Homo sapiens: one gene and its partners. The protein of the gene in region 1 interacts with the protein of each later gene in a pairwise test. Each region holds a gene or a part of one and is shown in the gene's direction. Other genes may lie near its edges.

Evidence for each region.
Region 2: the proteins of CPLX4 (region 1) and SLC30A2 interact in binary tests that used the Homo sapiens proteins (3 or more experiments, as listed by UniProt).
Region 3: the proteins of CPLX4 (region 1) and NINJ2 interact in binary tests that used the Homo sapiens proteins (3 or more experiments, as listed by UniProt).
Region 4: the proteins of CPLX4 (region 1) and GRM2 interact in binary tests that used the Homo sapiens proteins (3 or more experiments, as listed by UniProt).

The regions. Positions count from the first base shown.
Region 1 is NC_000018.10:59,294,137-59,302,041, reverse strand, and holds the end of CPLX4 (complexin-4), read left to right. Parts: intron 1-5,116; coding exon 5,117-5,344; 3' UTR 5,345-6,640; downstream 6,641-7,905.
Region 2 is NC_000001.11:26,035,669-26,043,118, reverse strand, and holds the end of SLC30A2 (proton-coupled zinc antiporter SLC30A2), read left to right. Parts: intron 1-410; coding exon 411-570; intron 571-1,313; coding exon 1,314-1,419; intron 1,420-3,207; coding exon 3,208-3,342; intron 3,343-3,813; coding exon 3,814-3,959; 3' UTR 3,960-5,867; downstream 5,868-7,450.
Region 3 is NC_000012.12:659,791-667,978, reverse strand, and holds the start of NINJ2 (ninjurin-2), read left to right. Parts: upstream 1-4,533; 5' UTR 4,534-4,618; coding exon 4,619-4,651; intron 4,652-8,188. UniProt on the Homo sapiens protein: Its role in unclear. In contrast to NINJ1 paralog, does not mediate plasma membrane rupture (cytolysis) downstream of necroptotic and pyroptotic programmed cell death.
Region 4 is NC_000003.12:51,709,669-51,717,825, forward strand, and holds part of GRM2 (metabotropic glutamate receptor 2 isoform a precursor), read left to right. Parts: intron 1-1,030; exon of another isoform or gene 1,031-2,051; intron 2,052-2,804; coding exon 2,805-3,642; intron 3,643-4,295; coding exon of another isoform or gene 4,296-4,315; exon of another isoform or gene 4,316-4,356; coding exon of another isoform or gene 4,357-4,453; exon of another isoform or gene 4,454-5,393; coding exon 5,394-6,469; intron 6,470-7,968; coding exon 7,969-8,149; intron 8,150-8,157. UniProt on the Homo sapiens protein: Dimeric G protein-coupled receptor which is activated by the excitatory neurotransmitter L-glutamate. Plays critical roles in modulating synaptic transmission and neuronal excitability.

The DNA.
Region 1 (7,905 bases):
CTGTCCATGCCTTCTTTATCCCAGGGATCCTTTCAGCAGGGATCTTGACACTGAGCTGCCCTCTTTCCTCTAAAATATTCATAACCACTGCTACCATTTGTCCAGAGCTTAGATGCTTGCGAGGCTGTTTCACAGCATGTCTCATTCAATCTGCTCAACAGTCCTCTAAGTGGCCCTTCCATTGGACATCAGAAACATAAGTTGACTTGCCCAAGGTCATGCATTGGTGAATGGCAGATCTGGGACTCAAACCCATGTCTAACTCCAAATCCCACAATCTTTCATTCTCCTAGGCTGCCTCCACCAGAAAACGGTTTGGATAGGCTGCAACTTTTTACAAAGGAGATACTTGAATACTTAGCCAGTTCTAGGTCTAGGGCTAGCTCAATTAGTTAGGATCCAGAGCTAATGAGGCTACAGGCCCACATTTGGTTCCAGAGGGCATCATTTTCTCCTCTAGCCACTCAACGGCCTTGTCTGGTTGTCCTACCTTTAGTCATAAGATGTCCATGGCACAGGCTGCAGCCCAGAGTAATTGGCTTCAAGACTAGAATCATCTCCAGAAGCAGCCATGCTCTGGTGGAGGGCCAGTAGCCTTGTACTTCTAGATCAATGGTGAGTGCAGGACTCTCTGACCACAGCCATCGAGTACACCCATTGCTGCCTTTGGACCTGGACATCTGAGGCCACTGCCCTGGGGCCCATGTTTTAGAGGGCTCTCTTGGTCTCTCTTCTAGCCACACTCTTTCACACGGGGTGAAGAGTCTGTGGGCCAAAGGGCCTAGCCCAGGCAGAGCCCACACCCCTCTTGTAGACTATGCTCAAGCTGCTTAGGACCCCAAACGCCCTGCCTAAGTGCATTCCAGAGCATTCTCAGGCCTCCGATGCAGATCTGTGCTCCTGAGAGTGGCCAGGCAGACTAGGCCTGAGGAGTGGGGTAGGGGCCATGCACCCAAGGTCCTAAGGCCCTTCCCAGTGAGGGCTGGCACCAGGAACTGGAAAAAAAAGAGGGCCAGGTTGTGAGCCAGGAACTTCTATCAGCACTTATGTTCTGCCACCCACAAAAGTCAGGGGCGGGCCTGACAAGAGGTAAGGGGAGCTAGGGCTGGCTAGGTAGCTTTCTCCTAGAATAGAGAGCCTAGTGCTAAAGAGGAAATGACTAAGCCTGGCTTGTTAGAAAAACCAAGCCTTTGGGTGAAGGTAGGAGTCATTGCTAGGTCAGAGGTAAGGTGCCAGGACATCACAGCCTCCTGACAGAGCTAACCCCATGTGCAAGACTGCCCACAGCAAATTCCCCTGCCCACCTCTGAAGGTTATTATTTTTATGAATAGCTACTACTGGGTGAGTGCTTAACAGATTCTAAATAATTCAGTTACCATCTAATTAACCTTCCACAGCTCTAAGGCAAATAATGCAATTCTCCATATACAGACAAGGAAATAAAGCTCAAAGAGGCCATCTATACGAAGTGCCCCAGGTCACCCATCCTATAAGTGGTAGAACTAATGTGCTCACTCAGGCAATTTAGGCTGCGATGCCCCAATGGAATTATAAAGATAAACCGATAGCTACGAAAACAGAGCTCTTTACAGCAAAGAGGACCTACAAATTTGAGTATTACTAAGGCTGTTATCCTCTCTGACAATAGGTTCATTGAATCATTCAGTAAACATTTATTTTAATTTTTAAAAATATTTATTTATTTGTTAAGACAGAGTCTCTCTCTTTTGCCCGGGCTGGAGTTCAGTGGCGTGATCTTGGCTTATGGCAACCTCTGCCTCCCAGGTTCAAGTGATTCTCCTGCCTCAGCCTCCCTAGTAGCTGGGATTACAGGTGTGTGCCACCACTCCCTGCTAATTTTTTGCATTTTTAGTAGAGACGGGGTTTCACCAAATTGGCCATGCTGGTCTTGAACCCCTGACCTCAGGTGATCCCCCCGCCTCAGCTTCCCAAAGAGCTGGGGTTACTGGCTTGAGCCACCATGCCCGGCTATTCAGTAAACATATAATTGTCTGTGTCTACATGCCAGAAACCTTGCTGGGTTATGAGACAGAAAGATGAGTAAGTTACAGCCCTTGTCTTCAAGAAATGTAGAGCAGGGGTTCTCAAACTTCAGCAAGCCCCAGAATCACCTGGAAGACTTGTTAAATCACAGATTGCGAGGCCCGAGCCCTGAGTTTCTGATTCAGTGGGTCTGAGTAGGGTCCCAGCACGTGCATCTCTAGCAAAGTCCCAAAAGATGTTGATGCTGTTGTCCTGGAGAACCCACTTTGAGAACTACTTTGAGAACCACTTTGATAAAAGTTAGGGCAATCAAGATCCTCTCCATAAGGCAACGTAGAATTGCACTGCTCTCCCTTCCCTGAGCAAGAAGCACAAGGATAAAACGAACCTCAGAGTCACCCTTGAAGGAGGAAACCATCCCAAAGCTTCTTCAAGCGCTGCAGAGCCATAGATGGTGGCCTCGCTGAAGTCTCCCTGTGAATGGGAGGCAGGCGAGCACCATCCCGTGAGCCCTCATGAGTGTGTTCGGTGTTTTATACTCCTGGCTGGCTGACACGCTTTCCTCTAGCCCCTCTAGCTGCCCATCCCTGCAAGCCCACAGCAGTTACCCTGTCCAGGTTCAAACCTGGTGACATGCTTGGGGATCTTACTACCAACCTGAGGGAAGGGGCCAGAATTCCCGGGAATGTCTTTTCAGATTACTTGCATTTGATTTCAGGATGCATAAGAGAGGGCAGATGTCCCACATTGGCATGAACTGAGAATGAGTCGTCCACCTTGTGCTTTTCCTCTCCTTCCTGCAAAAAGTCCCAGAAGACGATCAGCAAGGAAAGCAGCCGCTAGGGAAGGCAAATAAAAAATAAATAGAAATGCACAATTGGCTGGGAGCCCCTAAGGATTAACTAACTAATTAATCCCACAACAGTTTGACCAGGAACTAATTAATCCGTTAAGCACTTGGAGGGCCCAAGGCCCTGGCCAAGAGCAGGGAGAGGCTTCACTTATCTCCGGAGGCTGGCGCGGAGTGGGACTGTCCTCCAGGCTCTCCAAGGAGGGCCTGGGTGAAGACTGTCCTTCCCAAAATCAGTGGTTCCTGCTGCATCAGAAATCTGCTTCTCAAGCTATTTCTTGAGCCAGACTCCTGTGTCACTCTGCCCAGGGAACCGAATCAAAGAAGAGAGCCCTGAGGAAAGGCAGCTGGGCTTCAGCCCCTCCAAGGATGGGAGCCACAGAGTGTTAGAACTGGAAAAGACTTCAGCCATCTCGTCCTTCCAACCCACTTTCCAGATGAAGAATGAAGTTTCCAGGTTACCTGGTGTGCTGTTTGGACCTAGAGACAACTGATGTTTCTTTCTGATCATTCCTACATAGCACCCAGACAGGGAGAATTCAGATCTCTCTTTAGGTGCTGTCTTTAACTCCACCTCAGAAGTCACCAGGTGCAGAAATCTTTCTTAAAGCAATGTAGTCTGTTTGACTAAGATCGTCATTTTTTAATATGATTTTTCATGAGCTTTGGTAACAAATTTAAGGCTGGTCACAACATATTCAGGTGGCTCTAACATAGATCTTTCCTCTCATTAGCTTTTCTGACACTCTTTTTAATCTTCTGTTTCCCTGAAACCCAGGTCACCTCATGTTACAACCTGATCTCCAAAAAATCTGACAGCAGCCATCTGGGGATGTAAGCTACTGTTAACCTTTCCCAGAGAATATTTTTCTTTAGACTCCTCTCTCATTACAGAACAAGAGACTCTATAGCCTAAGTGGTAAAAGAATCTCAGCTGAGTATGGGGGTGCATACCTGTAGTCCCAGCTACTTGGAAGGCTGAGGTGGAAGGATTGCTTGAGCCCAGGAGGCCAAGGCTGCAATGAGCCCAGATTGCACCACTGCACTCCAGCCTCGGTGAAAGAGAGAGACCCTGTCTAAAAAAAAAAAAAAATAAAGGAATCTCAAAGACCAGGCAGCATGCATTAAGAAATTCTAGAACAGACACTCCTAAAATCACAAAATGAAATGTGCAAGGCGCTTGTGACAGCGTCAGCAACACCGAAGGCTAGACTGCCAGTATGCTGAGTGGCGGCCATGCCCTTGATGGTTCACTTAATACATGTGTACTGTGTGCTAGACTCCAGTCCAGGTGCTAACGGTGGAAAGTTGAATCTGACAAGAGCCCATGACGGGCTCCCTGTCTAGTGGAAGGGAGGAAAAGAGCCATGATTAAGAAAAAGTTGCCACTAAGGTGTGATGAGTGAATTAATGCATACTGTCTAGTTACTATAAACTGAGACCTCATCCTCTACAGTGGGGTCAACCAGGTGAGTGGGTCTTGGCATGGGGCTGATAGAATCTGCAAGACTTGCAAAGCTGCCCTTAGGCAGAGTTGGGGTGTGATGCCCCAGCTTTTGTGTGTATCAGCATCACAGAGAGAAAGACATTCTTAAAAATCCAGATGGGGTTGGGAGTGGTGGCTCACACCTGTAATTTCAGCACTTTGGGAGGCCGGGGTGGTTGGATCGCCTGAGGTCAGGAGTTCGAGACCAGCCTGGCCAACATGGTGAAACCCCGTCTCTACTAAAAATACAAAAAAATCAGCTGAGTGTGGTGGTGCACACCTGTAATCCCAGCTACTGAGATTTACTGAGGCAGGAGAATTGCTTGAACCAAGGAGGCAGAGGTTGCAGTGAGCTGAGATCGAGATACTGCACTTCAGCCTGGGCAACAGAGCAAGACTCCCTCTCAAAAAAAAAAAAAAAATTCCAGATGGCTGGGCTCCATCTCCAGAGTTCCTGATTCAGTGGGTCTGGGATGGGGCCCAAGAATTTGTAGTTCCAGCAGGCTCTAGATGATGCTAATGCTGCTTGTCCAGAGACCACACTTGGAGAACCACCATGCTGGAAGGTTCTGATCGACGCAAGGTGCCATGAAGAAAGGACCCCCCTACAGAAGCCCCCACAACTGCCATCAGGACCAGGCTCTGCTGCAAGGCCAAGAGTGCCACTCACTTCCTGTATTCTCTAAAGACCTTTTCCTGCTGCTTTTAAAATTTATTTAGTTAGTGAGTTAGTAGTTTAGAGTTATTTATCTATCTCTATTTATTTTTCACATAGAGTGAAATGGATGAGAATCAAATCCAGATGGCTGGAGATGATGTGGATTTACCTGAAGATCTCCGGAAAATGGTAGATGAAGATCAAGAAGAGGAAGAAGATAAAGATTCTATTCTTGGGCAGATACAGAATCTCCAGAACATGGACTTGGATACCATAAAAGAAAAAGCCCAGGCCACCTTCACTGAAATCAAGCAGACAGCGGAGCAGAAGTGTTCCGTGATGTGAGGGGTGGGAGGGGTGGAGGGAGGGAACCAGCCATCCTTGGAAAAGACCACTCTCTTGTGGGACGTTTCAAGCAGTACATGTTTTAATGTAGTGAACACAGTTAGGAAAACCACGATGATCCATTGACAGACAATAATTTGGTTGTTCTAAATATTCCTGGCAGAGCATTTAGCTAACACCTTGCAGCGGGAACCTTACTTTCCTTTTAGTTATAAATGAGATAAACTGGAAAATTTCAGTTGTAAATGATGATGCAGAACACATATCTGCTTAAAGACCTTGAGATGAGCCAGGAAGAAACAAAAGCAAGGGGCATTTCCTCTCCAACTTTCTTCCTTGGAGGCCAAGTTCTCACCCTGTCCAACTATTCGCAGGACACCAGGTCCCTTCAGAGAGAAATGTGGAGAGTCAAGGTGTCTACTGGGAGCCGGGTTTCCCACAGGGAGCTGAGTCTACAGACTCCAGGGCAATCAAAGGTCACCACCCCCACCCCTCACCTCTAGGATCCTTGAATTTGTCAATGATACTCATCAAGTATGCTTGGATCCTTTGGTCCTTGGATGCTTCTCAGCCAAGTGGCGGTAGCACAGATGTGGTGAACAATGACGAATTGAGGCAGGGAATAGACCTCACTAGCCCTTTGCAATGGAGATCATCGTTCTAGTGGCCATGTGAAGAATGGAACCAAGGGAGGCACAATTAGAGGCAGAGGGAAACCAGGCAGACGGCTGCTCTTTTTGAGTTGAGCTTAACTCTCCTTGTCTGAACTTGGTGATAGCAATGGGAACAAAGTGGGTAGACTAACAGAGAGCATTAAGAAGTTAAATCAATCTCTCTCTGTCTCCTCCCAACCTCTCTCTCTCTTTCATCCCCTTCTCTCCCTATCTCTCTTTTTTTTTTCTTCTCCTGTCCCTTCCCATCCCACCCCTTTAGACTACCTTCCAGTAAATCACACTGTCATTTGGTGCCACAAGCTTTCAGGGTAGACACTGATTTTTCCCCCCTAATATCTGCTCTCTTTCAAAAGGAATAATTCAAAAGACTTAGGACAATTACCACTGAAACACTTCGAGCTATTTAGCTAAAGCCCACCAAACCAAAACAAAATACTGATTTTTTTTTTTTTTTTTGGTGACTCTGTTCATACAGTGAATAAAGATCTATCAAAGGAAAAGGAAACTGAGACCGAAAACTTAGGGTCTAAGTTGTTCTAAACCCAGGGTTCTCAAATGTGTTGTACAAAAAGTTTCATGTAATAAAATTAAGCAAATAAAACAAATGAATAGAGGTCCAAAACCTATGGTCCTTGGCAAAGTTTAATCTGTCTTGGAAATTCCTGGGAGAACATTGGTGCAATGATTGAGGCTGATTAGCCTTCTAGTCCACAAACCCAGATGCCATGGGCACATTTTAAAACTGTGCTTGTCTTTTATCAGAAATGGCATGTGAGTTGTGATTTGTTTTATAGCAGAAACTTTAAAAAACTCACTTTTTTAAAAACTACAATATAATAGATAACATTTATTTTCAGTTTAATGCCTGACTCTGCCCTGTAGTTGGTGAGGTGGGTAGTATGGATGGGTGAGAGGTGCTGTATGTGGCCTGATATCTGTACACTTTGTATGACATAAAATACTACAGCTGCCAAATTGTTCCACACTCTAGCCTCAGGATGACAAAGAAGATGTGCTTTCTTGTAAAAGATGCAGCCAGTTCTGCTAAGGAAATCACTAAATTGGCACTTCCTCTTGACTGCCAACATTACTCCAATGCAATTTGGTCGTTGTCTCAATGAAGCTGCACAGCTGCTAGAAGACTCTGACCATGATTCCTCTCATATCACACCATACAACCCCACAACACAGCCCAGTATATCACATCACCCCACATCACATTACACCAGACCACAACCTATCACACCACATTACACTACAACGCACCACCCCACACTAAACCACCCCTCACCATGCCAAACCACACCACCCCAATCAACACCAAATCACATGTGTATGGGTTGGGAGAGGGAGGACATGTATTAGGGCATCCAGAAGGCCCCTTTCTCTCTAGAGGGTAGATAGGTGTCTGTGCTGTATGATGTTGAGGAGCACAAAAAGGTCTCCCATCATCAAAACCTAGAATCCAACAATTATTAAGGACTACGAGGGAATCTATTCCAATCTCCCATACAATAAAGGGACCCTTCCCAAACTGTCCCAGTTGAGCCTTATTTGAAAGCTTCCAGTGGTACAGAAGTCACTATCTGCTGCTCCAAGGAAATTTAACCACCAGCTCTTCCATTTGTAGACAGCTCTAGTTGTTAGAAAATCCTTCTTTGTCTTAAGCTGAAAATGGTTGCATCTTTAATCCATTGGTCATGGTTCTGTTGAATTAAACTGCACAGATTGTGCCTACATTCCCACTCAGGCTTTGATATATCCCCTCTCAGTTTTCTCTTTTTCAGGAAGACATCCTTACTTCTTTTTGTCAATTCTTATCATACAGTAGGAACACTGTGAACCCACTGGGTAATTGAATGCTGACTGCCCATGTCTAGGAGTGAA
Region 2 (7,450 bases), on another chromosome or scaffold:
CGGGAAGAGGCCAGTTGTTGCAGGAGTAGCTGTCCCTAGGGGCAGAACCCAAGTCTGAAATTGGTCTCAGTTAGAGACAATGGGTGTCTCTTTCGGGGTCTTTGTTCAGAGGCCTCAGTTTCCCCATCTGTGACATGATGGAGTGAACTGACAGTGACCTCCCTAATGCCCTCCTGCTCTGAGATTTGACACTGTGGCATTGTTGTGCCCAGGCTCAGCCTGGCATTGGCGCTGGGCCCTATCTCTCATGGCTGTCTGAACCAAGGCCACGTGGGTTGGACTTCTCACATGGCCAAAGAGATCACAAGGTTTAGGGGCTTGAGATTTTTGCCCTACAAGTTGGCTAGTCCTAATAGGTGACCTCCATCTGCGACCTCAGTGAGCCCTTGGCTTTGTCTCCACTTCCATAGAATGGGGTTGACCCTTCACCAGTCTGGCCATGGGCACAGCCACGGCACCACCAACCAGCAGGAGGAGAACCCCAGCGTCCGAGCTGCCTTCATCCATGTGATCGGCGACTTTATGCAGAGCATGGGTGTCCTAGTGGCAGCCTATATTTTATACTTCAAGGTCAGAGCTGGGACACAGGGTGGTGGGGGTGGCAGGGGAGTGTAGACCACCTGAGTATACTCTCTACCGGGGTTTCTTTTCAGATTCTAGCTCCCTCCCAGTTCTAGGGAAAAGGGTGGGGAGAGGAAAGGAACATTTATCCAATACCTACCAAGTGTCAGCACTTCTGATCCTCACAACAACCTGAAGGGTAGGTGGTAGTGTTTTCTGTAGCTCAGAAAGGTTCAGTGACTTGCACAGTGTCACACAGCCGGTAAAGCATAGAGCCAGATTCAAGCCTACGACTGTGTGTTGTCAAACCCTGGGCAATGCCCATCACATAGAGGCAGGGAGCTGTAGTGGAAAGAGGCAGGCATTTGCTCTGAAGCTTGGCTCTCCTCCTTGCTAGCCATGTGACATTGGATGAGTTTGCTTGCTCTAATGGAGCCTCAATTTCCCCATCTGTCAAATGGGGACGGATGGCGGATCAGATGGTATCTAAGATGCCTTTTTGCTCTGTCCATGTCTCAGCTCCTTGAGAAGGAGGGGTGGGAAGGGACTGCCTTATTCTGAACTGTGGTCTGTCCTTTCTGCTCTTGCAGATGTGAAATAAAGAGCAGAAAACTGGGAGGCAGGGCCAGGGCGAGGCTCATGCCCACCCAGCAGAGAGAGCACCTCTCCCCAGCAGTGCTGGGTGGGAGGGGAGAAGGGAAGCTGAGGTGTTAGATGGTGAACTCCAGGTCTGCCTTCCTGTCTTCCTGCAGCCAGAATACAAGTATGTAGACCCCATCTGCACCTTCGTCTTCTCCATCCTGGTCCTGGGGACAACCTTGACCATCCTGAGAGATGTGATCCTGGTGTTGATGGAAGGTAACCTGGGCTTTGTGGCTCCCTTTTTGCTCTTGGCTCTCAAGCGCTAATCAGCTCAAATAGGGTATGTGTGTGTCTGGGGCATCCTAGCACATGGGCGGGGAGCCAGGATCCGGAGCCCCGGCATAGGCTGGAAAACCTCCTGGGGCCCCTGGGCTGATCTTGACATAGAGCCTGGGCTTTCAGGTGTGGCAGTTCCTGGAACCGTCCCCCAGCCCGAGTCTTCCCTTCCCCCTACCCCTAAGGGTGCCTCCTCTGCCTAGTCAGGTGGCTTCTGGGGGACATCTGTAGCATCTGGAGCTCTCCAGCCCTCCCCTATACACTTCCCCAGGCTCTGGCTGCCTTCTCTCAGGAAGAGAGAGGGGGTGAGGATTATGCTTCTCATTGCACAGAGGGGCAGACTGAGGCTCAGAGAAGGACAGTCAGCCTTGGACAAAGCTACTGAATCCACTGCAGCGCAGGCCTTTCCTACATCTCAGGGACCAAACAATGCCACACCCTGTGGGGACATGGCTGTGCTTTGTGGGGTTGGAGAACGGTCAGTGGTGGAGAATGATCTGGTCTGCCCTGAATTACCTTTTTTTTTTCTTTTTTCTTTTTTTTGAAACAGGGTCTTGCTCTGTCATCCAAGCTAGAGTGCAGTGGTGCCACCAAGGCTCACCGCAGCCTTGACCTCCTAGGCTCAAGTAATCCTCCTGCCTCAGCCTCCCAAGTAGCTGGGACCACAGGCGCATGCCACCATGTCTGGCTAACTTTTAAATGTTTGTAGAGATGGGGGGGGGGTCTCACTATGTTGCCCTGGCTGGTCTCGAACTTTTGGGCTCAAGCAATCATCTCACTTCGGCCTCTCAAAGTGCTGGAGTTACAGATGTGAGCCACCACACCTGGCCCTGCACCTTGGCTTTCTTATGCTCTAGGCCTGGGGTCTTGGGCCAGGGTCATAGGCCTCTGCGTGGTCAGGGTCAGTCTGGAATGGAGTAGGATGCTGGCCTGGGCTTAGCAGTATTTGGCTGCAGGTCAGAGCTTTTTCTCCAAGAATATGCTAACCCAGATGAAAGCGATAATGATGAAGATGATGATCGTGCCCTGGGTGGGTCCAAGGATTCTCAGGATCTGTTCTTTCCTTCTTTCCATTCAAAAATATATTTATTGGCCAGGTGCGGTGGCTCACACCTGTAATCCCAGCACTGTGGGAGGCCGAGGCAGGCAGATTACCTGAGGTCAGGAGTTCAAGACCAGCCTGGCTAACACAGTGAAACCCTGTCTCTACCAAAAATACAAAAATTAGCCGGGCGTGGTGGCATGCGCCTGTAGTCCCAGCTACTCAGGAGGCTGAGGCAGGATAATTGCTTGAACCAGGGAGGCAGAGGTTGCAGTGAGCCAAGATCACGCCACTGCACTCCAGCCTGGGTGACAGAGCAAGATTCCGTCTCAAAAAAAACCAAAAAATATATTTATTGAGCACCTACTATGGAGTAGGTGCTGTTTTAGGCACCAAGGATACTGTGGTAATCAAAGGAGACTGTCCTGCCCTCATGGAGTGTCCATTTTAGAGGGAGAAACTGACAATAAGTACATTCATAAATAATTTCAGTGTTAAGAGTGGAGAGGAAATACAACAGAGTGATAGGGCAGAGACCTTGGGAGGTGAAGGCAGCCTCAGACCTGCAGGCCAAAGAGGTCTTCTTTGAGGGGATGACACCTGAGGATCAGGAGCCAGCCCTGCACCAATGGGCAGGCGTGGGAGGGGTAGTTTCCTTTAGTTTCCCCTGTCCTTGCCGTCCTCAGGGACCCCCAAGGGCGTTGACTTCACAGCTGTTCGTGATCTGCTGCTGTCGGTGGAGGGGGTAGAAGCCCTGCACAGCCTGCATATCTGGGCACTGACGGTGGCCCAGCCTGTTCTGTCTGTCCACATCGCCATTGGTGAGTGCTTGGGACACTCAGGGTGGGGTGGGAGACAGGCAGCCAAAGGCCTAGTGCCATCCCCAACGGGTCCAGGTGACCCCAGATGCTCACAGTGCCCATGCATCAAGCCCAGCCTCATGCTGAGTACTTGATACGCATTATTCCATCTGATCAGCACAATCTCATTTATCCATGAAGAAACTGAGGCTGGGGTTGGGTGGTAAAGTTACTTGCCCAGGCTTTTACAGCTAGTATATGGCAGTAGGTGGCAGATTCCTGGCCTTAAGGCCAGTGCTTTACCAGCTCTTTCAGGCATGAGCCAGGTCTGGGCTGGGAGGCTACCTGGCAGAGGAATGGAATCTGGGGGCTTCTCCATGTTCATGGTCCCCCATCCTGTTCTGCTGGGGATGGGGTATGAGATTTGGGCTCCTGATGGTTCCAAAGGGCCAGAGTAAATGGCTTCCCCCGCTGTGTCCTCTCGGCCCCCAGCTCAGAATACAGACGCCCAGGCTGTGCTGAAGACAGCCAGCAGCCGCCTCCAAGGGAAGTTCCACTTCCACACCGTGACCATCCAGATCGAGGACTACTCGGAGGACATGAAGGACTGTCAGGCATGCCAGGGCCCCTCAGACTGACTGCTCAGCCAGGCACCAACTGGGGCATGAACAGGACCTGCAGGTGGCTGGACTGAGTGTCCCCCAGGCCCAGCCAGGACTTTGCCTACCCCAGCTGTGTTGTAAACCAGGTCCCCCTCCTGACCTCTGCCCCACTCCAGGAATGGAGCTCTTCCCAGCCTCCCATCTGACTACAGCCAGGGTGGGGACTCAGCGGGTATAAAGCTAGTGTGACCCTGCTCTTCCAGCTCCTGGGCCAGCTCTGGAAGGGCTGTATTTGGGCCTAATCCTCAGCAAATGTTCTACCACTCGCAGGGGCAAAGGTGGTGAGCCACGGGACGTCCAAGGGGAGGCTGGCCCCAGCGCGCCCATACTGCCTGCCTCATGCCCCATTCTCAGCCTGGCTGGCCTTTGCCTTTATGAATCTGAGCCCCTCCATCTGCCTATAGCAATAGGCACGGGGGTGAGGACCCTCACACTCTCATTTGAGCCTCCCTGAGGCAGGGAGCCAGGAGGCACCTGAGGCCTATCTGTGCCTTAGTCACTTCAGCTATGAGCCAAATGTTCCCTTTCCTGGAGGGGAGAGGCTTCTTACTAGGTAAGAGACAGGTTTCCTCTTTCCTTATTTCCTCAGCTGTGCCAACACAAAAAACAACTTTGGCACAGGTGGTGGGCAGGGGGTAGAGAGATTTCAGCTTGGGTTCTGCACTAACAGCCTCCAAGCCCCCTGGCACTTCTGTTGCCCTGAGAGTGTCCCAGGGGATTCAGAGTCTCCAGAAAGATATGGCTGGGCCAACTCTGTTGCCTACCTGGCCTGACCCAGTCGGAGCCTGACATGGTGGAGGGAAAGGGAGACAAGTGGGGCTGCACTCGGTCCAGAGGCCAGCTAGGAGGGAAACCGCAGCTTCCTGGGGCTTGTGTGTGAAGATTCCTGACTTAGGGGTGGCTTTTGTTTACAAGATGCAAGAGGGGAAACCTGTCCCCGACTCATCGAGACAACATGCCCAGTTATCAGGGAGTCCTGTGTCACAAGGTCTGTCTCTGCCATTGTAAGCAAGTGCCTTGGGCGAGCTGGCCTCTGCCCCACAGTCTCATCTGTACACCGACAGGGTTGATGCCTCCCTCACAGGGTTGAGAACAAGAGCCAGTTGGCCAAGTACCTGTGGTTGTTGAAGATTGGTTACTTTTACCATCCTGGGGACAGGGAACTCTGTGGCCCGAGGCTGCCTCACTGAGGAGTCAGGTGGGCTTCCCAGCCTCCCCAGGGGCAGTGCTGAGTTTGTCTTGACTGTTCTGGCCCAAGGTGGGAGGAGGTGGGTTTGGTCACTTGCCTCCCACTTTAAATCTCTGTCTTTCCATCTGTGAAATGACCTCTTTGTGCCTTCCCAGCACTGTCATCCTGATCGCCTGTGTTCTAGGTAGGTGGGTCCTTCAGCCCCTCCAGGTCTGTGAAAAGTCTGTGGAAAGCACTGGCCTGGAGAGGGGTGGGGGGTTGCTGGTGGGTGCTCCATTCCACCACAATCTCAGGGGACTCAACCTCCCCTACCCAACTCCCCACCCCCACCCAAGCCATGGCAGGCCCCAGGAACTTGATCCTGGGCTTTGCCGTATGCCAAGTCCTTACACCCCTCTCAAGAGACAGTCATTGGCTGGGCACGGTGGCTCATGCCTGCAATCCCAGCACCTTGGGAGGCTGAGGCAGGCAGATGACTTGAGGCCAGGAGTTCGAGACCAGCCTGGCCAATATGGCGAAACCTCATTTCTACTAAAAATACAAAAACTAGCCAGGCGTGGTGGCTTGTGCCTGTAATCCCAGCTACTCGGGAGGCTGAGGCAGGAGAATCGCTTGAACCGGGGAGGCAGAGGTTGCAGTGAGCTGAGATCACACCACTGCACTCCAGCCTGGGTGACAGAGCGAGACTCCAGCTTAAAAAAAAAAAAAAAAAAAAAAAAAGGAGACCATCACTGCTGTCCTGCATTCTTACAGATGAAAAAACAGGCTCAGAGGTTGAATCGTTTTCCTGAAGTCAGACAGCCAGTGCAGGCAGGTCTGGGATTTCTGCCTCATTTCGGTAGACCTTCCTCTACAGCAGGGTCTGGGGGCCTGTCGGTCTGCGCTGCCTGTTGGTACAATACAAACCCCTGGGACCAGCAGTGCCCGGCCCATGGGTGAGGACATGCCAAGGCAGTTCAGTGTCCTGGGTGTCACAGCTGTGATTGGAAAGGTGCCTCTTTCACCTGGCTGGGCCTGGCATCCAGCGCCCTCCCCACCCTGGGAAGGCTGCCTGGGCCCCAGCTGTATGCTTTCCCACCCACCCTCAGTTCTTGACTCCGGGCCGGACTGCCTCTCCCCCACCTCTTTAATTTCCAGTCCGCCCTGTACCTCAAGCATCTCACAGCACCACGCCTCCCAAGGGTAACCCACTCTGCCACTCAGCTGTGACTGGCTCTAGGGAGGACCTGAGTCATCCAGGGGCCCGCCGAGGTCAAGCTGGGGGGTGGGGGTGGAAGGCCTTGGAGAGGCCTAAGGGGACAGTATGTTCCTGCCAGTGAGACAGTCACGGGAGTTTCCAGAGCTGCCAGGCCATCAAAGCAGGAAAACACCTGACACCCTGGACCTGGGCTGGACCCACCACCCTCACCCTCTGGAGTCGCACGCGCTCCCAGGCGAGCCCTGAGCCCTGAGCCCCTCCCTCGAGCAGCTGCTGTAAGGGTATTTATAGCCTGGAGCGTGAGGGGGCAAGGACACGCGCTTTATTTCGGAAGTGATAATTCCAGCTCCAGGTGGGTGAACCCCGGAGGACCTAGTGTCCCCCCCCAACTCCATTCTCACCTATACCGCTCGGGACAGTCCCTGCTCGCGCCCAGCCCACCTAGAAACAGTCCCTTCTTGCTGAGTTCCAAGTGTGCAGGCGAAAGAGATGGGGCTGTTCTTCAGATTTCTCTTCCCAGCTTTCAGCCCCCGAGCTGCCCACAGCGCTCACCCTCCACATCCCGGCCGCCCTCTGGACATGCGGGTGAAGAGTGCGGCGCGACGCTGACCTCTAGTGGTCGGCCTTGGTAGTGCAGGGCAGACGGCCGAGGCTGAGCCGCGGGCCGTGCGGGGACAGGCCACTTGTTCCCATCCCGCTTTCCTCGCCCCACTCCTCGTTTACCCGCACCCCTCTGCTCCTTGGTTGAGGCTCAAGGATTGAGCCTGACAACCCAGGCGTCTTTGGGTAGTTGCCTTCCCGGGACTAGGAACCCTAGGAATGGGTGGCGGGGTGGGGCGGGGACAGTTCTGTCTCTCCGCTCACCCTGTCCCGCCGCCGCCCTCATAGGGCCAGGCACGCAGTTAATGTCTGCCATCCATCTATTCGTCAAATATTTGCGGCACACCTGCCTAGCCAGAGAGAAAAGGACACGACACGACCCGCCCCCCGGGGCTCGCAAGCCAGTCCTGGGGCCTGACCGTGCGGGAACCGCGGCAAACACTGGACTGCGAAAGCGCAAAGGAGACCGAACCCATTGGG
Region 3 (8,188 bases), on another chromosome or scaffold:
AATATAAACTTTTTTTTTTTTTTTTTTTTTTTGAGACAGAGTCTCACTCTGTCACCCAGGCTGGAGCGCAGTGTTGTGGTCTCGGCTCATTGCAACCTCCACCTCCTGGGTTCACGCCATTCTTTTGTGCCTCAGCCTCCCAAATAGCTGGGATTACCGGCATGCACCACCAGGCCCAGCTAATTTTTGTATTTTTAGTAGAGAGGGGTTACACCATGTTGTCCAGGCTGGTCTCAAACTCCTGACCTCAGGTGATCTGCCTACCTCGGTGCTGGATTACAGGTGTGAGCCACGACACCTGGCCAAAACACACATTAGAAACAGAATTTAAGAGCTAGAGGGATCTTAGGAATCAACTCTTTTGATAGCTTCACATTCACAAACAAGAATGTAAGCCCCAGAGAAGTTAAGTGACTTGCCTAAAAACACAGTGACTCAGCACACAGAGAGGAATCCAGGCCACCTGGCTTTCACCCTAGAGCTTTTCCCACAATTCAAAATTAAAGGATCTTCTTGCTGTTGCCTTCTTCAGTACCCTACAACAATGCTTTGCTCCTTCTACATAGCAAGATACCTAGGGTCTCATTGTAGACCCCTCATTCCATGAAACTAGACTCAGAGTAGTTTCTGAGTCACTCTGAGTGTCTACTTATCTGTAAGTTCAAGGATATTCCAAAATATGCTTTCCAAGAGACAGTCTCCCTAAAAATGTCCCTCTGGCTTTACACCACAAAAATCACCCTAGCAGTAAAGAACAATAGAAACCATTTCCACCCACAGTGATAACCTCCACGTAGGTGCAGTTTCAGCACCAGCCAAATGGCAGCAACACTCTTCACTACAGCTTCCCTTGCCATCAGTTGTCTCACCAGGGCGTGCATGTGGTGCTTTTATATCCCCGCAGTGTTTAACCCAATATCCACGTGGTAGAGACTCAGTAGTTGCCTCTCAAGTGGGAATTAGACTTCAAAGACTCTGATTAAATCCTAGAGCAGGGGTCAGCAGACTATAGCCTGTGGAGCCAACTCCGGTCTGTTTTTATGAATATCTGACTCTTTTTGTAAATAAAGTTTTATTGGAACACTCCCACACTCGTTCATTTACATGTTGTCTATGACTGCTTTCACATTATTATAGAAGTGAGTCATCGCAGCAGAAACCATATGACACACAAAGGCTAAAAAATATTGGCTCTCTGGCCCCTTACAGAAAAAGTTTACTGGCTGGGCATGGTGACCCACGCCTGTAATTCCAGCACTTTGAGAGATCGAGGTGAGCGGATCGCTTGAGCTCAGGAGTTTGAGGCCAGCCTGGGCAACATGGCGAAACCCCCGTCTCTACAAAAAATACAGAAATTAGCCAGGCATGGTGGCACGCGCCTGTAATCCCAGCTACTGGGCTGGGGGTTGGGGCCTGAGGTGGGAGGATCACTTAAGCCCAGGAGGCAGAGATTGCAGTGAGCAGAGACTGTGCCACTGCACACCAGCCTGGGTGACAGAGTGAGACCCCGTCTCAAAAAATTAAAATTAAAATTAAAAAAGCTTCATATAGCAATTTGAATTTTATAAAAGGGAAAAATGAAAAAGAAAAACTTTGCTGACCCCTGGTCCAGGGTTACAGCGTGATATGGTAGATAAACCATTTTCCAAAGCCTTTTTTCTGTTTACTTCCAAATGATGCTTATGAGATGGGGAAAGGTCCAAATCCAGAAAGATCTTGCCAAACCAAAACCATTATTATAACCAATTACAGCTGTTTCCTTTTCAAACCAATGTGCTTATTAATAGGAAATTTTTTGAAATATATTCGAGTACTTTTCTCTTTTGCATTTTTTTGTTCCTGTTTCCCTCTATTCAGCCAGATGTATCCATATTATTTAAAAGATAATGAGGATTTTCACAACAGGAGTGCAAAGAGAAATAAATAGTTAATATTTTGCTTCTGGCATCCGAAATAAGGTTTTCCAGAAAGTTTTTTTTTTTTTTTAAGACATGGTCTTGCTTTGTCAACTCAGGCTGGAGTACAGTGTCATGATCATAGCTCACTGCAGCCTTCAGCTCCCAGGCTCAAGCAATCCTCCCACCTCAGCCTCCCAAGTACCTGGGACTACAGGTGCTGCAAGCTGCCACATCTAGCTAAATTAAAAAAAAATTTTTTTTTTGTAGAGACAGGATCTCACTGTGTTTCCCAGGCTGGTCTTGAACCCCTGGGCTCAAGTGACCTCCTGCCTCTACTTCCCACAATGCTGGGATTACAGGTGTGAGCCACCATGTCCAGCCAAAAAGTTCTTCTACAGATGGGATCTCACTATGTTGCTCAAGCTGGTCTTGAACTCCTGGGCTCAAGAGATCCTCCGGCTTTGGCCTCCCGAAGTGCTGGGATCACAGGTATGAGCCATGCTGCCCAGCCAAGACAATATTTTTGACAACCAGGTTTTCTTGAGAGAGAGGATTTTCTAAATTTCTTCATTTCCCTTTGAATTGTTGTCATAGAGTTCTACATCAGATACATCCCAGCCAAACAGGAAAAAAAAAAAAAAAAAGAAGACAAAGCGTACATTTTCTGATTCTAGATTAAGGGGACTATGGGAAGAAGTAATCTCAGCTACTCGGGAGGCTGAGGCAGGAGAATCGTTTGAACCCAGGAGGCAGAAGTTGCAGTGAGCCGAGATGGCGCCACTGCACTCCAGCTTGTGCAACAGAGCGAGACTCCATCTCAAAAAAAAAAAAGTGCTTAGAATAGTGCTTGATACATAGTGGTATTATTATGAGCGGTGGGGTGATAGATATTACTGGTAGACTTTTTAAGGAGTGCTGAGAAGAGTGGGTTCCAGGTCTCATTTCCATTCAGGAATGTGGAAGGAGATCACCTCGCAGACTGCCCTGTGTCAGTTGGAGCAGCCACATCAGAGCAAACTCTGCTGGAAGTGGGGCTGAGCTTGCCTTTCCCCTGCCCTTCGTCAGCAGCCCTCAGTCCCCATGTGCCTAAGGGGGCTCAGGAGCACTGGTCAAGCATCTCACAGGAAAATTTCGAGGGGCTTATCTTAGAGATGTGGGCCACTGAGCGGATACAGTGGGATGGGGGCACATACAAGTCAAAGCCAGGTCTCAGGATGGTCCACATTGCCACGAGCCAAGGTAGCGCAGACAGCAAGGGAGAACACTGGATCTCAAAGGCAGAAAGAGAATCACCCATGAGTGACTCTGGCCTAATATCAGACATCAGCCACCAAGGCCAGCAGAAGACCCAGGAGCAGGACCTGTGTCTCCTCAGCAGTCAGCAATTCGGGCGGGCCCGTGGGCCCAGCAGCTCCAGAACAGAAAGGAGCCGAGATGGAGAGGCCACAGGATAGATGCAAGAACCGTCCCCACCCCGCCCTCCTGTGCACCTAGGTGCCATCTTCTGCAAATCCGAAAGACTGAGCATTGTGTCTAAAGTGGACTGTTTACCATTTAAATGATTAAATCCAACTATGCTTCATAGATTAGACTAAAATATGGCCCCCATCCAATCATCCAACCCTCCCTCGCACCACTGTCCAGAGGGATGGGAACTTATAAAGGCATTTCATAGAACTGAAGAAATCGCCTTTTTTTTTTTTTACATTTGAATGTGGTGAGGGTAAACGTGTTGACTCTGCCTGTCTTCCTCCTGCCCGCACCTCTTCAAGCCCTGAATTGGATTACAGGTTAACACCCTGCCATGCACGTCTACAGACATACCCACACCCACACCTGCACAAGCTTGTGTCTAAACCTTGCTTCAGGAACAAGCCAGAAGAGTTTTGGGCTCTAAGGTAAACAGGAGAGGAAAAAAAAAACTTTCTAAAAAAAGACTCCCTCCTGGTAATTTTATTTTAAAAGTAGGGAGAATACCACTGTTTGCATAAACAAGCTTCGAAGGTACAACTACTCCCTGCTCCCTCTATGGCTAATCAAGGGAGGAGTTGAAGGAATCAAACAATCCGTCAGTAAAAACGTATTGTTCACTCACTTTGCAGAACAAAGCCTATGCTTTGGAGCCTATTAGGTAAACTACAATTTTTTTAAAAACTTTTAGGGATATAGGGAACAAAGCAAAGAACAACGGAAATCCCTCTGCCTCAGTATTGAGACTGTGCTGGAGGTCACTCCACCCGTGGCGACTGGGGACTGGACCCAGCGGTGAAGTCAGATAGCGTTGTCCTCAGGCTGTTTTTCAATTTGCTTGATAAACATGCAGGATTTCTTTGCCAGTCATAAAGCTACTAGCTCAAAGCAGGCTGGGTGACCTCAGATGGCTCCGCTGGGACTGGAAGGTCACTGGAGCCACTGGTGAAAATGATGCTGTCACTACCAACTCAAAAGGTCACCTATCAGTGTGCCATGTGCCACCTCCTGGAGCACACACATGTGCACACACATACACTCACACGTGTGTGCAGGTGCACACCTCCCCCAGAGGCTGCAGCCAAGACGGGCATCCCACATCAGAGGGATGAATGGCAGGTCTGTCCCGCCAGCTGTGTGCTCTCTCCCACCCGAAGAAAGCAGCAGAGACTCAGACGGCGGAGCCTGGAGGAGCCCACGCAGTCTGTTCCCGGCACCCGGTGCGTGTGAAGGGACTTGAGGGCAGCGAGATGGAATCAGCAAGAGAAAACATCGACCTTCAAGTAAGTTCTCTCTGGAAGAGAGCAGAGGGGAGACCGGGAGTAGAGGTGAAGCTGGAAGAACAGAGGATTGATACTTTAGTCACTTGATATTCTCCCTCCCCGTTCTCTTCTTACTCACTCCCTTCTCCAAATGCTCCCTAGGCTTTGTCTCTTTATTTTCTCTTTCTCTCTGTTTCCCTATCTGGTTCTTCACTTGTTTTGAAATATCTGAAAAACAGATTGGTTAACTCCCTTTTGGCCTCTGCTTCCTCTTGTCAGTCAAAGAGCTAATTAGATCCGTATTACCAGAAAATGATTTCACATTCTGAGCAGTGCTTTCCCCAAACCCCAGGACAGTAGAGACTTCTCTTAGAGCTGCCGGGGAGACAGGAAATATATGAGTTTTGAGGCTAGGAAGAGAGGCAGCTGGCCAACTTTGCATTTTACAGGTTGGAAAAAACTTGAGCCGTTTCTCGGCTGTCTTCACAAAGCTCTACTGTGTAGGACAGAAAGCGTCTCATTTGGACAGTGCAAGGAAAGGAAATCAGTCTAATCTCCTAGGAAGAGGCAGAGATGTGTGTCCCTCTGTAGCTGGGATGGGCTTGGAAGGCATCAGAGGTTCCAGTCCACTGCTGGAGGGGAAAGGGTGGGATGTTACGGTGAGAGGAGAGCCAGATTGCTGGGAGCTGCACTCTGTGACTCCTTGCCAATGGATAGAATAGAACGAACCCTTCTATGACCACTGCTGAGGCTGTGTAACATTGCAGAGAATCAAACAAAGTGTGGAAAAGGACTTTTGAGATCAAGAATTTCTGATCCCTGAACCTGGTCCTCGAACAAAATCTTAAGCAGCCACCCAATATACACTTCGGATTAAAGAAGAGCTGTTTTGTTGAAGCAGAGTATGTGCACGCGTCTCTCTCTCTCTCTCTCTCTCTCGTTCTCTGTGTGTGTTTTGGGCAGGGTGGCGTGAGTCTGGCAGAGTCTCTGTCCTTGGCCCCTCCGCCCTTGAGACACCACCAGGGAACTGTAGGACTGCTTGGTGTGCTGTGTCAAAACCATTCACCTAGTACAACTGCATACCCAGTGCTGTTTTCCTGGATTGGCAGCCAGCCCCGAGAGCGGTCCCACCGCAAGGCTTGCTTGTCCCTCTGTCTGGAACCTTCTTTCCCTGGCTTATCTCCTGGCTGGCCCTTCCTAGTACATTCAGGTCTCAGCTCAAATGTTACTTCCCCCAGGAGCCCTCCCCTGACCAACCTCTTCACAGGATGCCTCCTCCCCAATTTGTCTTTATCATTTGTTTAATTTCTTTCATAGCACTGCTCACCACCTAAAGTTACACTGCTTATTTATTTAGTATGTATTGCCTGTCACTCTCACTAGGACACAAGATCTCTGAGGGCAGGGCCTCTCCTGTTTTATTCACTGCTGCAGCCCGAGTGCATGAGGCAACTCTTGGTACACGGTCATTGCTTTAGAAAACATTTGTTAAATGAATGAGTTGAGGAAGCCATGAGTTGGAGAGGCTCTGAGATAGGAATAAGGTCACCTAATTGGCCCAAGACCTCCAGTCCATGTCTTCTGTCCCTAGTATGTGTTTTCTTCTTACTTCTAGTTCTTGCCTCTATAAGATCCTTGGTTGTTAAGGAAATTGTGTTGCTGCTTATTTTCATTCTCAGAAGAGCAAGTTTCTTATGTGCTGATGGGTTGAACGATCCAGAGTTACAGGCTAAGGACTCTGCATCTGAACCAGAGGTTCAGAAGGAAAGAGGTGGTGGGAGGAAGGAGAAGGAAATGACTGGCTAGGCTGGATGAATGTCTCTCTCTAGCAGGTAACTGAGGTGTTAGTGTACCTTTCTCTTCATTTGTCATTCACTCTCTTCTAATATGCTATTTAATTCTTGTATCTTACATTTTCCTTTGCTCAGAAGGTTATCCATTATTTTCTACAATTTATTGTCCACCTTTGGCTGGGCACGGTGGCCTACGCCTGTAATCCTAGCATTTTGGAGGCTGAGGCAGGAGGATCACTTGAGCTCAAGAGCTAGAGATCAGCCTGGGCAACATAGCAAGACCCTATCTCTATTAAAAATTTAAAAGTAATTAGCTAGGCATGGTGGCATGCACCTGTAGTCCCCACTACTCGGGAGGCTGAGGTGGGAGGATTGTTTGAAGCCAGGAGTTCAAGGTTGCAGTGAGCTACAATCATGCCATTGCACTCCAGCCTGGGCGGCAGAGCCAGACCCTATCTCTAAAAACAAAACAATAACACTCTTTAGTTAAAACAATGTTTCCCCAAAATGTGGTACAATTATCACCAATGGGTGGTAAAGGTACATCAATGGCTGACAGCTTTTTATTATAATGTTTATTTTTACAGTTTTTTTTGAGATGGAGTCTCACTCTGTCGCCTAGGGTGGAGTGTAGTGGCAAAATCTCAGCTCACTGCAACCTCCGCCTCCTGGGTTCAAGTGATTCTCCTGCCTCAGCTTCCCAAGTAGCTGGGATTATAGGCATGTACCACCACACTTGGCTAATTTTCATATTTTTAGTAGAGACAGGGTTTCATCATATTGGCCAGGCTAGTCTTGCACTCCTGACCTCAAATGATCCACAAGCCTCGGCCTCCCAAAGTGCTGGGATTACAGGTGTGAGCCACCATAGCTGGCCATCTTTATAGTTTCAGTATTCATTAGAAAGAGCATAACAGGGCCGGGCTAGGTGGCTCACGCCTGTAACCCCAGCACTTTGGGAGTCTGAGGTGGGCGGATCACGAGGTCAGGGGTTGCAGACCATCCTGGCCAACATAGTGAAACCCTGTCTCTACTAAAAATACAAAAATTAGCTAGGCGTGGTGGTGTACGCCTGTAGTCCCAGCTACTCAGGAGGCTGAGGCAGGAGAGTTGCTTGAACCTGGGAGGCAGAGGTTGTGGTGAGCGGAGATCGTGCCACTGCACTTTTGAGACTCTGTCTCAAAAAAAAAAAAAAGAAAAGAAAAAAGAAAGAAAGCATAACAACTTATCAGACCTGTGATTCCTTTTTTTTTTTTTTTTTTTTTTAACAGACAGGATCTTGCTGTGTCACACAGGCAGGAGTGCAGTGGTGCAATCTTGGCTCACTGCAGCCTTAACCTCCTGGGCCCAAGTTATCCTCCTGCCTCAGCCTCCTAAATAGCTGGGACCACACATGTGCACTACCATGCCCAGCTAATTTTTTTTTTCTTTTTTTAGTGATTGGGGTCTCACTGTATTGCCCAGGCTGGTCTCTAACTGCTGGTCTCAAGTGATCTTCCTGTCTTGGCCTCCCAAAGTGTTGGGATTACAGGCATGAGCCACATGTCCAGGCAATTCCAACATTTTTATTGCTTAGGATGAGCCTCAAGTAAGTGGCAGGAAGTTTTTTGACACCTTTATACAGTCCTTGCACATGACCTGGGCATACCCTCAATGTCTTAGTAACTGTTTCTGTCTGACCTGTTCAGAAGTACGGCAGCCCTGGGTGACATGGATCACAGGTGTGTGTGCCCGCACCTACTACTGCACTGAGACGTTGAAACCC
Region 4 (8,157 bases), on another chromosome or scaffold:
CACACACACACACACACCCCACACACCCTCACACACACACACAGCCCCCCACACACCCACACACACCCGACACACCCACACACACCCAACACACCCACACACACGCACCCCACACACCCACACACACCCCACACCCACCCCCACACCCACACACACACCCAGACACACACACCCTCACACACACACACACCCTCACCCTTGATGTTAACCCTGAGGGGCTTAATAGTCAGGTCTCCCACTTACTAACTGCATGACCATGGCACGTTATTTCTCTTTTCTGTGTCACAGCTTCTTCCTTATAAAATTGGATTCACAACACTTTTTTTTTTTTTCTTTTTTGAGACAGGATATCGCTCTGTCTCCCAGGCTGGAGTGCAGTGGTGAGATCTCAGCCCACTGCAATCTCTGCCTCCCGGGTTTAAGTGATTCTCCTGCCTCAGCCTCCCAAGTAGCTGGGATTACAGGCGCCTGCCACCATGCCCGGCTAATTTTTGTATTTTTAGTAGAGACGAGCCTGACCTCACCACGTTGGTCAGGCTGGTCTCAAACTCCCGACTTCAGGTGATCCACCCGCCTCGGCCTCCCAAAGTGCTGGGATTATAGGCATGAGCCACTGTGCCCGGCCCACAACACTTTCTACTTTGAGGTTTGCCATGGAAATTTAATGAGTTGATAGATGCATAGTATGTATCAGGGGCCCGGCAAGTCATAAGGGCACCGTTGATATTAGCTGCTATTATTTTTAACCCATTTTATAGATGAGGAAACGAAGGCTCAGAGAGAGGTGGGCCACATTCAAGGCAGTGGTGGAGGGGAACTGTGAAATCGGCTCTCGGCCAAGGGGCTCCTGACTTGTCAGATCATCTCTGCCTGGATTGGAGAGGGGTGGCCAGATAGAAGCCAGGAGTGGCCAGAGGAGAGAATCAGGGTAGGGGAGTCAGAAGGAAGATAAACAGAATATGTGTCGGGGGAGGGCACCAGAGAGTCTTCAGGGGGCACAGGATTTGAGGGGGTGGGAAGGGTGGGGAGGCAGCTCCCCTGCCCTCAGCCTCCTACTCTCCCACAGGGACCAGCAGAGGGTGCTCTGTGGCTCAGCTTCAGCAGAGGCTGCTGGCCCTGCTGACACCCCTCTGCTGCTCCCAGGGCTGTGCCCAGCTGCGATCCTCCCATCTCTGACTGGGTCCTACCTCTCACCCAGATTCCCGCTTGCCAAGTGCCCAGCACAGGCTGCTGGAAGATGCGGCTGGAGCTAGAATCAGGGCTGGGGGACATAAGGTAGGCCTTGGCTTGGCCTCAGCTTCCTTTCGGAGAGTGGCTGAGGGCATTGCCGAGATGGAGAGGGCCAGGCCCCCTGTCCTAGAACAGTTGTTCAGGAGAAATGGAGCAGAAGCAGAAATCAGAGAACCCTGGAGTCAGCTACCGGCCTGAAGTCGGGGAGGCCTGGCCACTCCATCCACTGCTGGGAGTGGATTATCTGTCCTGCTAATCCCAGACACTGGAGGTGGCTAGGCAGCTGTCATGCTAGTCTCAGTCACTGGAGGTGGCTAGGCAGCTGTCCTGCTAGTCCCAGTCACTGGAGGTGGCTAGGCAGCAGCCTGGGAAGATGTGGCTGTGCTAGCATCTATTTCTGCAGCCCCGGGTTGGGGCAGGGATGAGTGGGCGGCCTCCTACCTGCTGCTGTCTTCCAGGGCCTCTGCTGAAGTTTTCTCCACAGTCCTCCTTAGGGCTCATGCATTTATCTCCAGAAGTCCAGTTACCTCCTTGCCATCCCAAGCTGCCTGCCTCCTGGATCAGGGCCCACGCCTCAGCAGTGGTCTGCTTCTCCCTCGTCCTGATCAACACGAGGCTAGCCTGTCATCCGTAGGCTGCACCTGCCTGTTAATATTCCCCCTCATGGCTGCTCCTTCTCTCTTGCCCATGTCCCTATCATCTTCCCTTTGCCAGGCACTGTGGCCTCCCATGCATTATCGTTTTTATCCTCTCAGCAGCCTTGTAGGGCAGGAATGTGAAACTGAGGCTCAGGGAGATTTGCCAACTCCAGGGGCCCAAAGGTAAAATGTGTGGGAGGGGAGGAGACATTGAGCCCTAGACTGTCAGAGCCATAGCCTGTATCCAGTTGCAACACAAGACTCACCCCTCTGCTGTAGAATCTGGGCCATGCTCTGCTTTCACCTACCCACCCTCTACCTGGCCCTTGGCCGGATCCCACTCCTGTGGGACCTGAGGGTGGGAGATGGGGTGCCAGGCAGCCAGTGGTAGAACGTTTAAGACTCAGGCATTCAATGGAGACCAAGCCTTGGCCTATTAGGGCCACCGGACCCTGGGATCTGTGTCTTTCTTCCTAGGGGAAACTTTTCCTTCTTTCTGTATCATTCCATCAGATTGATTCAGGGGAAGGGCCACCTACCCTCAAATAAGTAGAGAGCCGAAGAGCCCTGAGTAGCCAGATGCCATCTCATGCCTCCCTCTGCCCCAGTGTAGCCAGGTGCCAACCTCCCTCCACCCAGGCCTTCCTTGGCCCCCCTGCCATGTGTCTAAAAGGGGATGGCAGAGGGGATCAGGTGTGGCTCATGACCCTGGTGTCTCCACCCTGGGTCTTCTCTCTCTCAGCCCTTGGAAAGAGATAAAAAAACTCCCTAGCCCAGAGGGAAGACTGTCAAGTCAGGATGCAGGGCTTTAGAGAGGGAGCCTTTAGGCCTGACCTTGTGGACACTTGACACCAAGACCTGCTAGCTGTGGGGGATGCACCTGTCTCTAGTGTTTGATCTGACCGCTGATCTTTGCCTTCTCTACTCCTCCCCCAGGTGGCCAACCTCTTGAGGCTATTTCAGATCCCACAGATTAGCTACGCCTCTACCAGTGCCAAGCTGAGTGACAAGTCCCGCTATGACTACTTTGCCCGCACAGTGCCTCCTGACTTCTTCCAAGCCAAGGCCATGGCTGAGATTCTCCGCTTCTTCAACTGGACCTATGTGTCCACTGTGGCGTCTGAGGGCGACTATGGCGAGACAGGCATTGAGGCCTTTGAGCTAGAGGCTCGTGCCCGCAACATCTGTGTGGCCACCTCGGAGAAAGTGGGCCGTGCCATGAGCCGCGCGGCCTTTGAGGGTGTGGTGCGAGCCCTGCTGCAGAAGCCCAGTGCCCGCGTGGCTGTCCTGTTCACCCGTTCTGAGGATGCCCGGGAGCTGCTTGCTGCCAGCCAGCGCCTCAATGCCAGCTTCACCTGGGTGGCCAGTGATGGTTGGGGGGCCCTGGAGAGTGTGGTGGCAGGCAGTGAGGGGGCTGCTGAGGGTGCTATCACCATCGAGCTGGCCTCCTACCCCATCAGTGACTTTGCCTCCTACTTCCAGAGCCTGGACCCTTGGAACAACAGCCGGAACCCCTGGTTCCGTGAATTCTGGGAGCAGAGGTTCCGCTGCAGCTTCCGGCAGCGAGACTGCGCAGCCCACTCTCTCCGGGCTGTGCCCTTTGAGCAGGAGTCCAAGATCATGTTTGTGGTCAATGCAGTGTACGCCATGGCCCATGCGCTCCACAACATGCACCGTGCCCTCTGCCCCAACACCACCCGGCTCTGTGACGCGATGCGGCCAGTTAACGGGCGCCGCCTCTACAAGGACTTTGTGCTCAACGTCAAGTTTGATGGTAATGGTGTTGGCCAGTGTCCATTGGCCTGCTGGCTGTCAGAGGATGAGGGGAAGCAGAACTTCAGCTTCCATTCCTTTGCTAAGGAAACAGTAGAGTGAAAGTAAAGGACTCACCTGGGGTGGCGTCAGAGCAAGGGCAAGGATGCTAGGCAGAGAGGACTCCAACTGAAGCTACGGCTGAGGTTCCACTTTCTTCCAGAGAGTAGACCTCTGGCCTGGTCCCGCCATTTTGAGGGTCTCTGGCTCCTCCTTGGGCCTTGCCCACTGTCTTCTGTCTCCTTATCTTGCCAAAGGTGGAGACCAGGAGACCTCAAGCCCATTCTCAGGCAGCACCAAGAGTTAGAATCAGTCTGGCTTGAGGGTGAGCATCAGGATGACGCTCTATATTCACGGAAAATGTCTTTCTGTCTTTCTTTTTTCTTTTCTTTCTTTTTTCTTTCTTTCTTTCTTTCTTTCTTTTCTTAGATGGGGTCTCACTATATTTTGTAGGCTGGAGTGCAGTGGTTATTCACAGGCACAATACAGCCTCCAACTCCTGGGCTCAAGCGATCCTTCTGCCTCAGTCTCCAGAGTAGCTAGGATGACAGGCATGTGGCACTGCTCCTAGCTTCAGGGAAAATTTCTATTCCTAATCTTGATTTTCCACTCAAGGTGACCTGAAAGTCTCCTGAAATCAAAAGTTATTTTAATAAGAGTGCCAGCTTTAAGAGAAATGACTGCTGCAGATCATCACTATGCTTCAGGAAGAATCACCGTGGGAACAGTGGGAGACAAAGCTTGGAAGCCCTGGCCCAGGGTTAAGATGAAGAGTACTTCCAATAGAACTGACATTCAGAGTTAGCTACAATCAGTGTAGGGGTTAGGGTTGGAATCTGGGGTCCGATTTGGTTGATGTTAGAGCAAGGCTAAATTCAGCATGTTTGGCTTGGGTGGAATTTATGGTAGGGCTAGAGTTGGATTTTGAGAACTTTTAGGCTGAGTAGAAAGAGTAGGTGCTTGAGGGGACCTGGGTTTGAATCTAGGCTGCACTATTCACTCATGGGGCCTTAAGCATGTCTTCTGCTTTCTTGAACCCTGATTTCTCACTGGGGCCAGGGATGGCTGTAAATCCTGGCTAGAGCCTGGCTGGGAGATGTGAGGTTTACAGGGGATGAAGTGGGGGTGGAGAGAGGAAGTGATTTTCCAGCCACTGACCACATTCTGGTGAATGGCAGTGGTTGCAGGTGACCAGTGAGGTTGGGATTCAGTTTGCACCAGGATGACTGTTAGGACTAGGGGTGCTGGAGCTGGGGTTGTTGTTAGGATTAGTGGGGACAGGATTGGAGCTGAGACTGGGTTTAGCCTTAGCATTGAGTTTGGGGAGAGGGCTGTAGTGTATGTTTCGATGAAGTTGGGATTTGGAGCCTGGGTTGGAAAGTGTTGGATAGTACTAAAGTTGAATTTGGGGAGTCATGGTTGGGGATTGATGTGGGCATTAGGTTTTTGGAGATGTCTGGGCTTTAAGGCTGGGATTACATTTGGCATTTAGGGTTGGGGTTTGATGTTGGAGTTTAGGAGTAAGACTTTGTTGTCATCTCTCATTTAGAAAAATGATTGGGGTCAAGGCAGGATTTAGTATTGGGTTAAGGATTGGAAGGGCTAATGGTGGTCTTAGCTCTGGCATTTGGGTTCCATGTTAGGGTGAATGTTGAGGTCACATCAGGGTAACACACTAGTCCAACCTTCTCTTCCTTCCCTCCCCCATCCTAGCCCCCTTTCGCCCAGCTGACACCCACAATGAGGTCCGCTTTGACCGCTTTGGTGATGGTATTGGCCGCTACAACATCTTCACCTATCTGCGTGCAGGCAGTGGGCGCTATCGCTACCAGAAGGTGGGCTACTGGGCAGAAGGCTTGACTCTGGACACCAGCCTCATCCCATGGGCCTCACCCTCAGCCGGCCCCCTGCCCGCCTCTCGCTGCAGTGAGCCCTGCCTCCAGAATGAGGTGAAGAGTGTGCAGCCGGGCGAAGTCTGCTGCTGGCTCTGCATTCCGTGCCAGCCCTATGAGTACCGATTGGACGAATTCACTTGCGCTGATTGTGGCCTGGGCTACTGGCCCAATGCCAGCCTGACTGGCTGCTTCGAACTGCCCCAGGAGTACATCCGCTGGGGCGATGCCTGGGCTGTGGGACCTGTCACCATCGCCTGCCTCGGTGCCCTGGCCACCCTCTTTGTGCTGGGTGTCTTTGTGCGGCACAATGCCACACCAGTGGTCAAGGCCTCAGGTCGGGAGCTCTGCTACATCCTGCTGGGTGGTGTCTTCCTCTGCTACTGCATGACCTTCATCTTCATTGCCAAGCCATCCACGGCAGTGTGTACCTTACGGCGTCTTGGTTTGGGCACTGCCTTCTCTGTCTGCTACTCAGCCCTGCTCACCAAGACCAACCGCATTGCACGCATCTTCGGTGGGGCCCGGGAGGGTGCCCAGCGGCCACGCTTCATCAGTCCTGCCTCACAGGTGGCCATCTGCCTGGCACTTATCTCGGGCCAGCTGCTCATCGTGGTCGCCTGGCTGGTGGTGGAGGCACCGGGCACAGGCAAGGAGACAGCCCCCGAACGGCGGGAGGTGGTGACACTGCGCTGCAACCACCGCGATGCAAGTATGTTGGGCTCGCTGGCCTACAATGTGCTCCTCATCGCGCTCTGCACGCTTTATGCCTTCAAGACTCGCAAGTGCCCCGAAAACTTCAACGAGGCCAAGTTCATTGGCTTCACCATGTACACCACCTGCATCATCTGGCTGGCATTCCTGCCCATCTTCTATGTCACCTCCAGTGACTACCGGGTGAGCTACCTGCCACAGAGGTCGGGGGAGATGGGACACCAGACCCTCTGTTTCCTGGTATCTTATTTAATCTACTGGTAGCTCTGGGGTTCCAAGAGGATAATGCCCACTCAGGGGACCACAGCTTGTGTGGATCCCAAGGGGAAGGTGGGAGGGCTGAATAGGACCTAGGGAAATGGCCAGGGAGGTGGGGAACTCGAGTTAGAGAGAGCTGAGATTTCAGGACTTGAATGTCATCCCCTATCCTGGAAGGTGATGGGGGTGCAGAAATATGTTCAAATGGACAGGGTTCTGCCCTGCTCCACTGAGGGGTCATCTGCAGAAGGGGTTGAGAGATGAAGCCAGGGAAGGCAGGAAAGATGAAGCAAGGTGGGTAGGGGAGGAGATCCAGGGTATAGAGTTGAGAAAAGCTAAAGCAGGTGAAAATTGTTCCCCAGTTGGTGGCTTCTGAGCAAATTTGGTTCCAACTGGCACTGTGTCTCAATGGGTCTCCCCAGCTCCAAGGGGCAATGGCTGCTTCAGATAGGGTGGTCAGGGAAGCCCTCTCTGAGGAGGTGACAGATGAGCTATGTTCTGAGTAAGAAGATTATCTTGGTTAATCTTCATAACTTGAGTAAGCTCCATGGCTCTCCCGTTTTACAGATGAAGAAACAGAGACTCAGGGAGGTTCAATCCCTTGCCCAAGGTCACTCAGCTTGGGAGTGCAGAGCAGGGTCTGAACTGCAGAAAAATTGAGGCGAAAGCCCCGGCAAAGGCCCCTTCCCCAGGACAGAGGTGTGGTGGCACAGTGCTGGGGGCCAGGGACCGCTGGGCTTGGCTGCTCTGCTTGCACCTGCTGGGCCACCTGCTTGGGTGGTAGAGGCCAGGGCTGGGGAGGGATTCTGCTCTGACTCAGCCTGCATTTGCATATGATTTGCATTTGCATGCCAATCACAGGCAGCTAAGGACTCACCTGAGACACACACCGTACCCACACATGCATGCACACACACACACACACTTGTACACACAGACATAGCCACATGCATGCATGCACACACACATATCCCACATACACACACTCGCTGGCACACACACATATATCTTCCTGACAAATGAATCCATACCCATGCACCCTACACTCACGCACACATACACTCACGCAGACACCTGCAGAAATTCACCACCCCACATACATGCACTTACACAGATATACACACACACCTACATGCACGCACTCCATTCCTGCAGCCCCCAGATGCACACACCCCTGTGTATACATGCCCCCCTGCATGTTCTCCCCTTCAGCTGGAACTCTTGTCACCCTGGGAAAATGGTCTGGGTCTGATGCTGGGACTGTGCCCAATTTTCCTAGCAATGCTTTGGGATCCGGCAAATGGACCACAGCCCAGTGTTGGATGCTTAGTCTCCCCCACTCCCTCCCCCACAGATCAGGCAGGGGGTCCTGGGGTCAGGCCCAGGTCTTGACCTGTGCTTGTTCACCCACTCACCCACCGCAGGTACAGACCACCACCATGTGCGTGTCAGTCAGCCTCAGCGGCTCCGTGGTGCTTGGCTGCCTCTTTGCGCCCAAGCTGCACATCATCCTCTTCCAGCCGCAGAAGAACGTGGTTAGCCACCGGGCACCCACCAGCCGCTTTGGCAGTGCTGCTGCCAGGGCCAGCTCCAGCCTTGGCCAAGGTCAGTGT